Linked DNA regions of Homo sapiens. The protein of the gene in region 2 binds, or shares a complex with, the protein of the main gene of each other region. Each region holds a gene or a part of one and is shown on either strand. Other genes may lie near its edges.

Region 1 (7,039 bases), on a different chromosome or scaffold from region 2:
GTGCTCCGAGAGGGGCCAGGGCAGCGGCACTCACCGTACTCCTCTCCCCGCAGGATTTCGGGGGCGATGTAATTCGGGGTTCCGCAGAAAGTGCTCGTTGTGTCACCAGGGCCCAGGCCTTCCTGTGGGGGCAAAGTTACTGGGAGAGGGTTCTTGTAGACACTACCCCGCGGGACAGGCGCCCCGAGACGCACATGCGGGATGGTCAGGGGAGGCGGTCCAAGGCACGCACCTTGCACATGCCGTAGTCTGTGAGCTTGATGTGCCCGTCCGCATCCAGGAGGACGTTGTCCAGCTTCAGGTCCCTGTAGATGATCCCCCTCTCGTGCAGGAAGTTGAGGGCGATGCAGATCTCGGCCGCGTAGAACCTGGGGGTGGGGATGCCGTCATGGGGGCAGTGCCTGTGCCAGAGGCTGCGCCAACAGCTCCAGCCTGGGGGCCACACACTCCCGTTTGCCCCACCACGGGCCCGGCATCCTCTCAATGACCAGGCCCAGGATTTGAAAGTGCAGTGCACAGGGCCAGGGAGGGAAATGCCAATGAAAGCTCCAGGACACCACCCCATGCGCCTTAGGATGGCCTGCTGTCAAAGACACAGAGAACGATGTGGCAGCCTCCACAAGGGGAGGAGCGGGCAAATAACACGACAGCTTCCATGCGGGAAAGACCGGAGCCATGGCACGTTGTGGTAGGAGTGCAGAACAGCGCCGCTGCTGCGGAAGACAGTCCGGCAGGTCCTCGAAAATTAAACACGGTGCCAGGCTTGGTGGCTCACACCTGTAATCCCAGCACTTCGGGAGGTCGAGGCAGGCAGATCACCTGAGGTCAGGAATTCAAGACCAGCCTGGGCAACATGGCGAAACTCCGTCTCTACTAAAAATACAAAAAAATTAGCCGGGTATGGTGGCGCACACCTGTAGTCCCAGCTACTCTGGGGGCTGAGGCAGGAGAATCACTTGAACCTGGGAGGCAGAGGCTGCAGTGAGCTGAGATCCCACCACTGCATTCCAGCCTGGGTGACAGAGCGAGACTCCATCAAAAAAAAAAAAAAATTAAATATGACCTTTTTTTTTTTTTTTTTGAGACAGAGTTTCACTCTGTCACCCAGGCTGGAGTGCAATGGCGCGATCTTGGCTCACTGTAAGCTCTGCCCACAGGTTCACGCCATTCTCCTGCCTCAGCCTCCCGAGTAGCTAGGACTACAGGCGCCCGCCACCACACCTGGATAATTTTTTGTATTTTTAGTAGAGACAGGGTTTCACTGTGTTATTTCACCGTGTTAGCCAGGATGGTCTCGATCTCCTGACCTCGTGATCCGCCCGCCTTGGCCTCTCAAAGTGCTGGGATTACAGGCGTGAGCCACCACGCCCGGCCTAAATATGGAATTCTTATGTGGTTAGCAATTCAGTTTCTGGGTGTATACCCCAAAGAACCGGAAGCAGGGTGTTCAAGAGATTACTTCACACCCATGTTCACAGCAGCACTGTTCACCATGGCCAACATGTGGATGCCACTCAAGTGCCCCCCGAGGGATGGACGGATAAGCAAAGTGTGGCCCCTCCATCCAACGGGGCATTATCCAGCCTGAAAAAGGAAGGCAATTCTGAGACAGGCCACAGCACGGATGAATCTTGAGGACGCTATGCTCAGGAAAATGAGCCACCGAAGGACCAACACTGTGATTCCACTCCGATGAGGTCCCTAGAGTCCTCGAATCAGAGGGACAGAAAGTGGGACGTGCCCGTCTGGGGTGAGGATGTGAGGCTGGGGCGGGGGACAGGGAGGGAGTGTCTGATGGGCCAAGCTTCAGCAGGGAAGAGGGGCGTGCTCTGGAGATGAGACGGGGGCCAGCAGTGGCTGCAAAGCATGGGGTGCATTCAACGCCACTGAATTCCATGCCCCAAAATGCTACCTTTTATGTTGTGTGTTGCCACAGTTTTTAAAAACAGCGTTGTGGGAAGTGTACTGTTCTAGATTTATTGCCTACTGTCCTATTGCCAGAAACAATCTAAGGTGACTCACAAAACTGCATGCAACGTTCTTAAGTAAGGAAATGAGGAAAAGGAGAAACTACAAAAGACAGGAAAGGTCCAGGGAGCTGAAATAAGCCCCCAAACGGTCCTGGAGGTCCCGCGGCTGCCGGGGGAGGCTCCTGAACCATGCTGGAGGCCCCTCGGCTGCCAGGGGAGGCCCGAAGATATCAGAGATGAAAGGGAAGGGCAGGAAGGAGTCTCTCAGGTCACTCTAGAAACAGACCACTCTCGTTCTGCTCCTAACGCTGAGGAAATGCTGGCCATGCTGTGCCACTAACAGGGTGAAGAGCAGAACCAGGGCAGAGCCACCATGAAGACAGCACAATCCCAGGAGACTCTCACTTCTCTCGGATGAGGCATGGTGCTGCTTCAGGGGTGGGGCCTGGGGGACTGGTCTGAGGCACCATAACTCAGGAGACCTCCCAAATGTTGTGACTCTGGAGCAAATATGGAATGTGTCACAATGCAGGGGACGTCACACTGTGGGGGACATGATGCCCTCTGCCATCCTACCTGGACTTCCCTCCCTTGAGCTCCCTGCTGACCCCTGGAGAAGGTCCCCGGCCCCCTCCACGTGCACCCCGCCCCCCCCGCCCCCGTCATACCCCCTCCGTGCACACCCCACCCAGCCACCTCCCCTCTGCGCACACCCACCCGGCCCCCCAACTCCGCGCGCACCCACCCGTCATCCCTCTGTGCGCACCCACCCAGCCCCCCAACACCGCACGCACCCACCCATCCCCAACTCCGGGCGCACCCACCCGGCCCCGTCCACGCGCACCCACCTGGCGTGCTCCTCAGGGAGCTTCCTCTGCCTCTGCATGTGGAACATCAGGTCCCCGCCGTTGACGTACTCAATGACCAGGAACAACCTGCAGGGAGAGAGGCGCCGGAGGCTGCAGTCACCTCGGCAGACGGCGGCCTCCTTAGACAGAAGCCCCACAGAAGCGGCCTTCGTGGGCCCGAACCCTCCCGCAGGTTCAGTCTTGCAAAGAGCAAAGAGCAGCAGGAGCACCCTGGCAGCAGAGAGGGGCTGGTGGGGACGGGCTGCGGGGCCGCTCGTGAAGGGTGCAGGTGAGGGAGTCATGCGGGGGCCTCGCCGGCCTTCACTCTTGGCCACTGTGTGTGGACTTGGGAAGTGTGGGTGGGCCCCGGAATGAAGGAGGTGGCCCGTCACCAGGTGGGAGTGGAGGTGGCTTGGACCAGGGCTGGGGGCTGGGACAGGATCTGCTGGGGGCTGGAGCGAGGCAGTTTCTTGCATGGGGACAGCACCGCAGGTCACGGGTGGGGTGGCCTCAAGGCCTGATTTCATTGCTGCAAGGCTGAGGAGTCCACCGGCCCTCCAAGGGAACAAGCTGGGGTCAGGGAGAAGCCAGGTGGGAAGTGGCATCCCGGTTTCGCAGACATGATCGTATGATTTTAAAAGATCCGCAGATGTCATCAGGACCACGCAGGCCCTTCCCGTCTCAGGGACTGGGCCACATGGTTTCTCTTCCTAATAAGATCTTTTCCTACATTTCATGAGACTCAATTTTCAAAATTAAATTCTCATACAATCTCCCAGAAATACCCTGTGGCGGGTTTTTTTAGGTCAGCGGCTCCTCTGGCACCTGAATTGTTTATTTGCTTCCGACTGGTGGCTGCTCCTGGCTGCCCCTCGTGGAGCGGGGAGTGAAGGAGGGAAGCGTGTGGTGACTCTGCCCGTTTCCTTCGATCCCACGCAAGCTCCCACACCACCGCCACTGTTACGCCTCAAGGCACCTGTCCCTGCTCCTGCCCTCCACAAGCTCCCAGAATTAAGCCAGAGAGGACAGAGGCCAGTTTACACAGGGCAGGTGAACTGGCTGCAAATCATCTGTGAAGTTTCTGATTGGAAACAAACTCCTAAAAATCGAAAGAGCCCTGGGCCCCAAGTGAGGAGCTGGAGAGACGTCCACGTGGCCAGTCGGGCACCCTGAAGAATAAGCCGTGCCTTTGGGGAGCGGCTGGGGAAGGCTCGTTCCTCGGCTTTTGTTGTCTCCCCTGCCTCCAACGGATGTGCCTGGAAATTCTCTGGTAACCTGGCCCTTGTCCTTGGGGACTCGCTGGTCCACTGCTCCCTGTTTTGTAAATAAAGTTTTATTGGAACGAGGCTATGCTCACTGGTGCATCTATTTTCTATGTCTGCTTTCCAGCCACCGTGGCAGAGGGAGTTGCTAACAGAGACCCTGTGGCCGCAAAGCCAAAAATGTCTACTCTTGGGCCCTTCAAGAAAAAGTTTGCCAATCCCCGGTATAAACAAAATAGCAATGACAGAAAGAGCAGCTCTGAGGGTGCCCTCGATGTGCAGGAACGTCCTCAGTGCACCCGTGGAGGGACTCGTTCAGTAACGTCAACCCCACGGAACGAAGCTCCATGAAGGCCTCCAACCCCTGGAGGACACCCACGACCTAAGAGTCGGTCAGAAAACGTTAAGAAAGAATTTATTCAAAACCCTTAGAGTGCCTGGGCGTGGTGGCTCACGAGGCCTGTAATCCCAGCATTCTGGGAGGCCAAGGCAAGCAGATCACCTGAGGTCAGGAGTTCGAGACCATCCTGGCCAACATGGTGAAACCTCATCTCTACTAAAGATACAAAAATGACCCAGGGCTGGTGGTGTGCACCTGTAATCTCAGCTACTCGGGAGGCTGAGGGCAGGAGAATCGCCTGAACCCAGGAGGCACAGGCTGCAGTGAGCTGAGATTGCGCCACTGCACTCCAGCCTGGGCGACAGAGCAAGACTCTGTCTCAAAGAATAAAATAAAAATACAAAAAACCACAAAAACCCTTAGGGTGACTTCACCGCACATTTTTTGCCACCAGGAGTTACACGCCCCAATGGGTGCTGGTCCCTTCCACCTGTCCCCCCGAGAGGAGCCACGTTCACCCCAACAGTGCTGCTGCGGCGCCTGGGAAGGGCCTCCACGGCCTCTGTGGGTTCATCCTAACTTTAAGCTATCACGGCCCATAGGACGGGGACAAAGCCAATGCCATTTCCAGAGAAAATAAAGAAATACATGAATTCTAGAGAAAAGCATCAATACAATGCCTCAGGAGGCTGAGAGAATTTGGGGGACATTTAAACACTTAGAGAGGTAGAGGCGGAGGCCGCTTCCCCTTCTTCTCCAGAGAAAAGCCAATCACGGGAACTGTGCTGAAAGCCAGTTCTCTCTGCCCAAGGCCTAGGACCCAGGCAGCTTGCTGAGGAAGGAATTTATTTAATTTGCAACTGCTCAAGCTGCAATGATGGTGGGGTTTTTTTGTCTACAGAAAAACCTTAATGCTACTTTTGACATTTCTTCAGAGCAAAAACCCACCAGGACAATCTGGTGTCAATTCACTCTAAGGCGACTCTGCGTGACACAAGCTGAGCTGGCTGCTGACAAGATGCCTGGGACCATGGCTGAGCATGCTCCGAGCCCACTCCTCTCCTCACGCTGGTGGTGTGCACCTGTAATCCACATGGGCTCGGCCCACTTGGGTGCCCCACAGGCGCTGTCCTGCATAGAGGCTCTCAGGCAGGGGCGCAAGGCCAGGCCAGGGGCGTGTGTGGCTTCACCCGTAGCCCCTCAGTGACACACACAGTCCTGACCCCAAGGGATGCTGGGAAGCACAGCCTGGGGGTGGGGGTGGGGGGCTGAAGGTGCCCCTCCATGTCCTGGTAGCCACACTCGCCATGTCGTGGCCTGGGGGGGGCTGAGGCTGCCCCTCCGTGTCCTGGTAGCCACACTCGCCATGTCGTGGCCTGGGGGAGGGGGCTGAGGCTGCCCCTCCGTGTCCTGGTAGCCACACTCGCCATGTTGTGGCCTGGAGGCGCTGGGGATGCCCCTCCCTGCTCCCTGTCCTGGCATTAACGCTCCTCTCATGTTTGCAAGGGGAGAGGAGCAAGCAGAGCCCAGATGGGAGGCGGGAGGCGGGAGTCATGAGACACGTGCCCTCGGGGCTGTTTTTCTGAGACAAGATCTCACTCTGTCACTCAGGCTGGAGTGCAGTGGTGTGATCATGGCTCACTGCAGCCTCGACCTCCCAGGCTCAGGCAATCCTCCGGCTTCAGCCTCCCGAGGAGCTGGGACCACATGCTTGCACCACCACCGCCAGCTAATTTTTAAATTTTTTGTAGAGAAAGGGTCTCGAGATATTTCCCAGGCTGGTCTTGAACCCCTGGCCTCAAGTGATCCTCCGGCCTCAGCCTCCCAAAGGGCTGGGATTACAGGTGTGAGCCACTGCACATGCCTGTCCATGATACTTAATCAAATACACAAACGTGAAGAACGCCAGCAAAAATGGATTCATCAACAACCAAAGACAAAGTGCAGCTCTCAGGAACCAGGCGAGACGCAGACCGCAGCCGGATCCAGTCCCTGACCCTGCCCTGGAACCGGCACCATCCAACAGACATGGGAAATGGAGGGACAGTGGCCGCAGGGGGATGCTGGAAGCTCACGAAACCTCCTAGGGGGCGGCCGGGGGCTGAGGGAAGCTCACAAAACCTCCTAGGAGGTGGGCCCTGTCCTTGGTGCCGCCCCCTCCTCGCCACTCCCCCCACCCCTTCCAGGAATGCAAGGTGCCCGGCTCAGAGGGAGGAACCACAGCCCTCTCCTGGAGGCACAGGAGACGCTGCCCTGAGAGTCAAGAATTAACCAGATGGGTCCGGGCGGGCCACCACCATGTGTGTACAGAAAGTTCTGGTGGAACACGGCCACACGCGTCCCTTCACGCAGTGTCTAAGGCTGCTTCTGTTTTAGAACGCATAGTTGCCACAGAGGCCGCATGGCCCACAAAGGTGGAAATATTTACTGCCTGACCCTTTAAGACAACCTTTGCTGACCGCTGGTGTGGCCCTCAGTAAGCGTCAGTCTCCAAGTCCCTCTGTGTTAACGCACTTGACCCCATCACCAGGAAGTAAGTTCAGCTCTCGCCATTTTACAGATGGGGAAGCCGAGGCACAGACAGGTTAGGGGACGTTCTCCGGCTCACACAGCTCCTGG
Region 2 (7,039 bases):
AATTGTGGAAGGTTTAAATGGTTTACATATCAACAGTTATTAATCTAAGAAGAAACAGCAATCTTCTCAAAGACAGATGAAAGTTAATATGTAAATATGACTGCTAAAAGTTTTTAAATCAATGTAAATCTTTGAATAGGAAATTCACTACATGAAGAAAGAAAAAAACTTCTGTTAAGACCCACAGTACCTCAAAACTCAAGTATTATTGTGCAATAATGACATCCAAATTTTAAGGGTAGGAGGTATGAGCAAGGGAAACAAAAATGTCCAGGGAGATGGAAAAGAACAGTGAAATGAGAGGTATCTCTAGATAGAGGTAATGGAACCTCCCAAAATCATAATTATTCAAAGCAGTTTACTAAGAGGATAAACCATAAACCAAATTATCTTTGCCTAGTTCACTTCTAATTCACCTAAATCTTACCATGTATATTTCCTTCACCACCCCCCACTCCCAAACAAGGCAAATTACTCAGTGAAGACTCCATCTCAGATCATGGCTACCAAATCTGGGGATCATATTATGCTTAAAGGTACTAAATTAATGATGCATTTATAAATTACTCTGATGATTCACAGAATTTAAATTCTCATTTCTTTGGCAGCTTTCTTGACAGACAGTCTTACATGCTCAATACAAAGCAGAAAAGTGTTTATATGTCACTAGAATCAAGACGCAAGAAGCCAACACGTGCCCAGGAAAAACTGGGGAGATAATGATACATTTGTAATGAATCACAACATTTTTACAATAATGATTTCTACCTAAGCTTTTTTAAAAAGTTACTTCTTAAGATATTAGTTTCCATTTCAGTTAAAATATTGTTAAGGCAAATGCTTGCTCATTATGGGAAGAATAAAGAGATCTGTAAAGGTGAAAAATCTAGAAAAGAGCACATTAATCTGATACATCACTCAGTATAAAACTGTAATGAAAAGTATAAAATATAAGTGAACAAAAAAGGGTGAATAAAAATGTAGATTAAAGAAACATTAAAGGAGAAATAAAGAAAACACTCCATAGTTATTCCTGTAGCAAAACCTACCATAGTTATTCTCAACATCAAACAAAGCATTCATTTACTTTAGTCTGAAGTCACTTTAGGGTGCTTGGACTATTAATATTTCTGATGTCTTCCATGCTGAACACCTGAATGGCATACTGTCTATATGAAATGTTTGTTATTGCTCTGGGGAGATTTTTCCATATGTCTCTGCTTTCATGAAACTCTAATGACTTGCAATAACATTTATTAAGAAAGAATTCTTAATTACTCTCCTTTTGCAATACTAACTTTTTTGAACTATGAATGCTGACTGTTGTAGGAACCTCAATACTATTAAAATATCAGCAACAACCCCTAAATCTGTAAGCTAAAAGTTCAGGCAATGACCTTTCAAGGAAAGATAAGTAGATATCAATTTTCATTTAACAAAGCCAACAAAACATTCTGCACTGACTGAAACAGATTACTGACCTTCTCCTCTGACTTTATTAAAAAGCTAATTTCTACAAAAGAGCTGGGTATTTGAGAATACCAAAATGGCAATAAATATTAAGAAATCATAATTATGGAAGCAAGTACACTGAGGCTATTCTGTTGTCATGTTATATAACATAGCTCCAAAATTAGGCCAAAGAATAATTATACTGACATCTTTTTTTGTACTAAGAGTTGATTCCAGTTTTTGAAGAACTGCTGCCACTCAAAGCACATTAGCTCACTTTGAACTGAATCTGAAGTTTAACACTGACACACCCTATGTTTTTAATGTACTTCACTAATAAATGTAATAACTTGTAAGAAAAAAATCTGCTAGCTACAAGGAAAGCCTGTTCAATTCTCCTACATTCATTATTATTAAAATATATGCATTTAGTCCTAATCAAAGATAATCAGCATTCTTCCCCACATTTATAGTAAACATAATTTTTATATAAAATATTTGTAAGTATTGGCAGCATGCACAAGCAGCATGTGCTTTTTGTCATACATTCTCACAGTTGGTAAATTAAAATCAAGATAGATCTATGGGACTCTATATCATTAAGATTACTCAAGGTCTGAAAAACACTTAAAACCATTGTTTCTCCTTTCAGTGATTAAGCATAGTCTTTCTAAATTAGCTTGTGTAAATGCAATCATATTTTTCATTAAATGCTATTAAAATAATATCTGTATTCAAAACAATGGTACCAGTTTTGTAAGTAAAATGTATCAATTTGATTTATTTATCACTTCAGACTTACTATAACATAAAAATTAGATATACTCATTATTTTCCTTTTTTTGGAGAATCTGTATTCTGTTTAATACTTTACCTTTATCTTCTCACTTCAGATTTCCTTTGTATTTCTCATTCTTTCATTAGCAAAACAATGGTACTTTTAATGGCAAATCACCTCATTTAAAAAGTTCATGTTATATCATGATTTGTCAAATATCCTAATTTTTGAAAAACCATAATTAACTAAATGAATATTGCTGTATCAGTGTAAAAAGGAAAAGATATTTATGAACCAGTATCTTTATGACAATGGTGAAGCAAAATACTGTACCTTTGTTTAGAGATATCAAGCAGAATTTTATTTTTTATACGATTCTATTTGTAGTTCTTGATATGTTTTTGGTTAAAAACAAGGGCCTGTCATTTAAGTAGAGCAAAAGGAGGAAAGAGGATGTGATATTTCTCTCATTTAGGAATTGACAGAGCTAAAGGGGTTTCTGTTGATATGACTCTGTGTTTGCAACGAGGCAAGCTGTCAACTCCTGATCATGTCAACCAAGTATTTAGAGCTTAAAAACCAGTAACCAGAAATAAGAAACTTGAGGTTCACATAAAGTTCACTGAAAGAATATGAGTTAGAAAGGAAACAGCAGTCTCAGAGTTTACAACCTTGTAAATGCTACCCCAAATGTAAAGAAGAATGGTCTGAATATCCGGATATGGAAAACATACTAGTAAGAATCTGTGGCCAACAGCCACATGACCTGAGGAAATAATGAACCTCTCTTGGAATCATTTCCATCCAACTATAAGAGTTGATGGTTGAGCCTATAAAAAAAAATATTCTTTATAATAATACCATTTTGAAAGACATGATTTAAAAATATATCAAAATGCTCAGCTAAAATGGATCAGGAACAGTAAAAGTGTATCTTGGTGCCTGGACGAAACATTGGGTGAAAATCATAAAGTCAAGTCCAATAGTTTGCACTCAACTTTGAAGGAGGCAAACTGCAAGAACATGCTCTCTATACAGAGATCCACTGTATACAGGAAGGGTACTAAAATACATAATGGATGGAAGATGTATGAAGAATCGGCAATCGACATCATGACTTCCACATCACCATAAGAAAGAGAAGCAGGCCTGGACATGGTGGCTCACTTCCATAATCCCAGCACTTTGGGAAGCCGAGGTAGAAGGACTACTTGAGGCCAGGAGTTCCAGATCAACCTGGGCAACATGGCAAGACTCCAACACAACAAAAAATTTGTAAATGAGATGGGCATGGCGGCATGTGCCTCTAGTCACAGCACTTGGAAGGCTGACATGGGGTGTTGCGGGCTACGGTGAGCTATGACTGCACCACTGCACTGTAGCCTGGGCAACAAAGAAAGGCCCTGTCTCAAAAAAAAAAAAAAAAAAAAAAAAAAAAAGAAAGAAAAAGAAAAGAGAGGAAAAGAAAAGAAAAAAAAGAAAGGGAAGTAATGCAATAATACAAGAAAACAAAAGACAAGAGTCAATGGCCTGGCTTCTCAGCAACCTACTATAAACTCCTGGCAGCCTCAAACAAATTGGTCCCTCCCCACATCAAATACTGAGATTGACGTGCACTACCTCTAAAGTCCTCCTTGAGGGCTGGACTTATACAGCAAATGGGGCAGTCAAAATGGTCAAATCCTTACTATTGTTCTGCATTTGATATTAATGTCCTGAAGCCATTTTCTTTCACAATCAAAAATTTTACTACAGTAACTGCTATCTTCTTCTCATAGACATAGTCTTATTCTCTGCACTTTTACATTTTAATTTCTACAGAGCAAAATAAACCTGAGACATATAAGAAATACAATTTGAAATATGTTAAAAGGTAAGTAACTTTAAAAAATCTATCAGTTCTTTCACAAAATAATTAGATAAGACTCAGGGTGCTTTGGGTTAGTAGGTTGACTTTTAAAATAAATTCCATTTCTACCCTTGTGTGTTGCTGCTAAGAAAAGAAATTCCACAAAACAAAAACAGGATAGGTCGTACCTTTCTTAAGCTGGATATTAAGCCTCTTGCCTATTTTTTTGGTGTTATAACCACTGCTTACAGTCGTACTAAATACATTCTGAGGTGCCGAGGCTGGAGCGGATGGTGGTTTTCCCGAGGGGTGTGCGCTATGAGGTAGTCTTGAGTGAGAGTCTATCTGCTCAGGCGGGTGGTTCAGTCGGGGTGCTCTCTGCACCGTGTGAAGCCCTGCACTGTTCACACTCCTGTTGTCAATATACTGGCTGTCAGGGCTAAAACGGCTTGAATAGTAATTGTTCTTCTCACTTTGGGATAGTTGTTCATACTGCTCTTTATTTGCTGCAGGAACCACATGGAACCAAATGATGGGTGTACGCATGGCTTGGCGAAACATATGTTGTGCTCTGGGTTTGAGAAAGAATAGAAAATTAGCAAATTAAGACTGGCAGACTAGAAGATATTATGAGCTTAATTAAGTTTACTAATTAAGCAATAAGAACTGACAGGCTGTTGAAATTGAAAAGCAAAATTCTAATAACCCATTTATCAATCAAGTTTGCAGCTCTGATCTATCAATAGCTGTTTCTTCAAATATAAATTTCTCATTCTCTCAATAAAAATAGAAAAATTATCTACAACTACAGATAAAATTCTGTCCTCTCAACTGTAAATCATTAAACATGTTTTAAGTATAACAAGTATTATAATTTCAATAATAGAAACCAAATGGAACATTCTCTCTACAACATTGTCTAATACAACTTGTAGACATTACAAAATACTTCAATTTAAGTTTTCAAAGAAAGACAGAGCTTTATAATTATATTTAGAATATTGGATTGGGTTAGATGTGTATTTAAAATTTTTAAAATACACACACACACACACACACACTTAGAAGACTATAGAAAGTAACTATTAATTATTTATTAAGTTGGTATATGTAAAAATCTCAAGAACAGCAATCCAGGCTCAATAATTCAAAATGTTGACAGCTGTGGGTCACAGTGCACCCATACAACCAGCCTGGGAAGCAGCTCTTTCTCATGCTGGTTCCCTGGTCAGGACCTCAAGTTCTTAAGAGTTCTGTTTGCTCCTGCCTTGTTTTATAAGAACTGGCCAACTGTTATGTTTTTCATTGACTAAGGGCCTGAATCAAGATAAAGTGTATCTGAATACAACCCAATATTGTATCTGAATACAACCCAAGATAAAGTGTATCTGAATACAACCTCAAGCAGATACAAACAGCTTTATCTGCTTGTTTGTATCTAGAGAAACTGTGTGCAGCAAAGGTGGACGGGTGAGTTAAAGTATGATAAAAATGGGCACACTGTCAATTTTCCAAAAGGAGAGGAACCAGCAAAATTGTAAAGTTGAAATGGGGGCCATAATACTTAAGAAGAGCTATATCCATCAGAGGACATTTTGAAATATAGTCTAATGGTATTAATTACTGAGTATGTTTAAATTTTTAAAAGCTAATGGCAGAAAATATTCCTCTCCAGTATACAGACTGAGATCACAGACATGTTTGAAGCATTTCAACTGACTGCACTCTGTCATGCCTAATGCAAGTAAGAACAGAAGTGCAGCGAGCACACACTTACTGTTCAAATCTTCTATTTCGAAGGTCGCCATCATTAATCCTGACAATGCAATCATTCTCACGAAAAAGATTTTCATGTTCAGCTTTACCACCTTTCTCCAATCGTTTTACTAATAACCCCAGGGTTCTGGAACATTAAGAATGCAAATGATTACACATGTAATATCTCCACCATGCACACTGCCTTACCACTTTAATGCTGTTATTATATTTACAAAGATGTCCTTACAAAGGAGCATGTTAAAATGACTATTCATACATTTTTAAATGACAGACAAAAACCACAACGTTAAAATGACATGTAAAAATGCATCCCTTCCATAAATGTAAAAAATCAGTTTCTGGCTGGTCAGTATTATGTTTCTAGAACAAGCTATAACACTCTCTCTGTTTACAAATGCCCCAAACAGAGCCCGCCTAATGGTTGAGTGGGTATTGCAGTGTGGAGGATGGATAAGCATGTATTTTTGAATGGCTTGGGCAATTTTCTGTTTTAAGCCAGCTGGCACGCTAGCTTAAAAGACGACTGCAACTCCCATCTTTCTGTGAAAGTAAAGGTAATGAGGAAAAGCTAACCTCATTGCACTGCAGGTTTGAGAATGATAATAGGAAAGATTTCAGGAATAAAGGAGTTTCCATGCTTTGCATTTGAATTTGATAGTGCTTAGTATTGTGAATTTCAAAACCTGTCAGGTCTCCCAAAAGTAAGTCATTTATTGTCAATATTCCCATTTGGAAAAACAAATGACCCAACAGAAAAACGTCAGTGAGAGGTTCAAATAATGCCAATCACCATTCATCTCTTCCACATATGTACTCACTCAGGTTGAAAGAAAAGTGTGAATGACCTTTGAGAGACCCCCTACTTGCTCTAGAACACTAACTTCATAACTGACAGGACATTCTATACAGACTGGGACAAATAAGAAATACTTCTTTAAATCACAGTATAAGCAACAGGGGTCTTAACCTAGCTCTGATTGCTGTTATTTTTATTTTTTTAGTCTTATTTTATTCTTTTTTGAGATGGAGTTTCGTTCTTGTCGTCCAGGCTGTAGTGCAATAGCATGATCTTGGTTCATTGCAACCTCCACCACCTGGGTTCAAGCGATTCTCCTGCCTCAGCCTCCTGAGTAGCTGGGATCACAGGCATGCGCCACCATGCCCAGCTAATTTTTTTGTAT

What was found. The genes of interacting proteins can lie anywhere in the genome.
Region 1: PARD3 (region 2) and PRKCZ share a complex: the UniProt entries of both Homo sapiens proteins name them as parts of the par polarity complex.

Annotation. Positions count from the first base shown.
Region 1 is NC_000001.11:2,165,384-2,172,422, reverse strand, and holds part of PRKCZ (protein kinase C zeta type), read right to left. Parts: intron 4,133-7,039; coding exon of another isoform or gene 3,856-4,132; exon of another isoform or gene 2,973-3,855; intron 2,930-2,972; coding exon of another isoform or gene 2,906-2,929; coding exon 2,819-2,905; intron 369-2,818; coding exon 233-368; intron 123-232; coding exon 35-122; intron 1-34. UniProt on the Homo sapiens protein: Calcium- and diacylglycerol-independent serine/threonine-protein kinase that functions in phosphatidylinositol 3-kinase (PI3K) pathway and mitogen-activated protein (MAP) kinase cascade, and is involved in NF-kappa-B activation, mitogenic signaling, cell proliferation, cell polarity, inflammatory response and maintenance of long-term potentiation (LTP).
Region 2 is NC_000010.11:34,378,273-34,385,311, forward strand, and holds part of PARD3 (partitioning defective 3 homolog), read right to left. Parts: intron 5,983-7,039; coding exon 5,857-5,982; intron 4,651-5,856; coding exon 4,268-4,650; intron 1-4,267. UniProt on the Homo sapiens protein: Adapter protein involved in asymmetrical cell division and cell polarization processes. Seems to play a central role in the formation of epithelial tight junctions. Targets the phosphatase PTEN to cell junctions.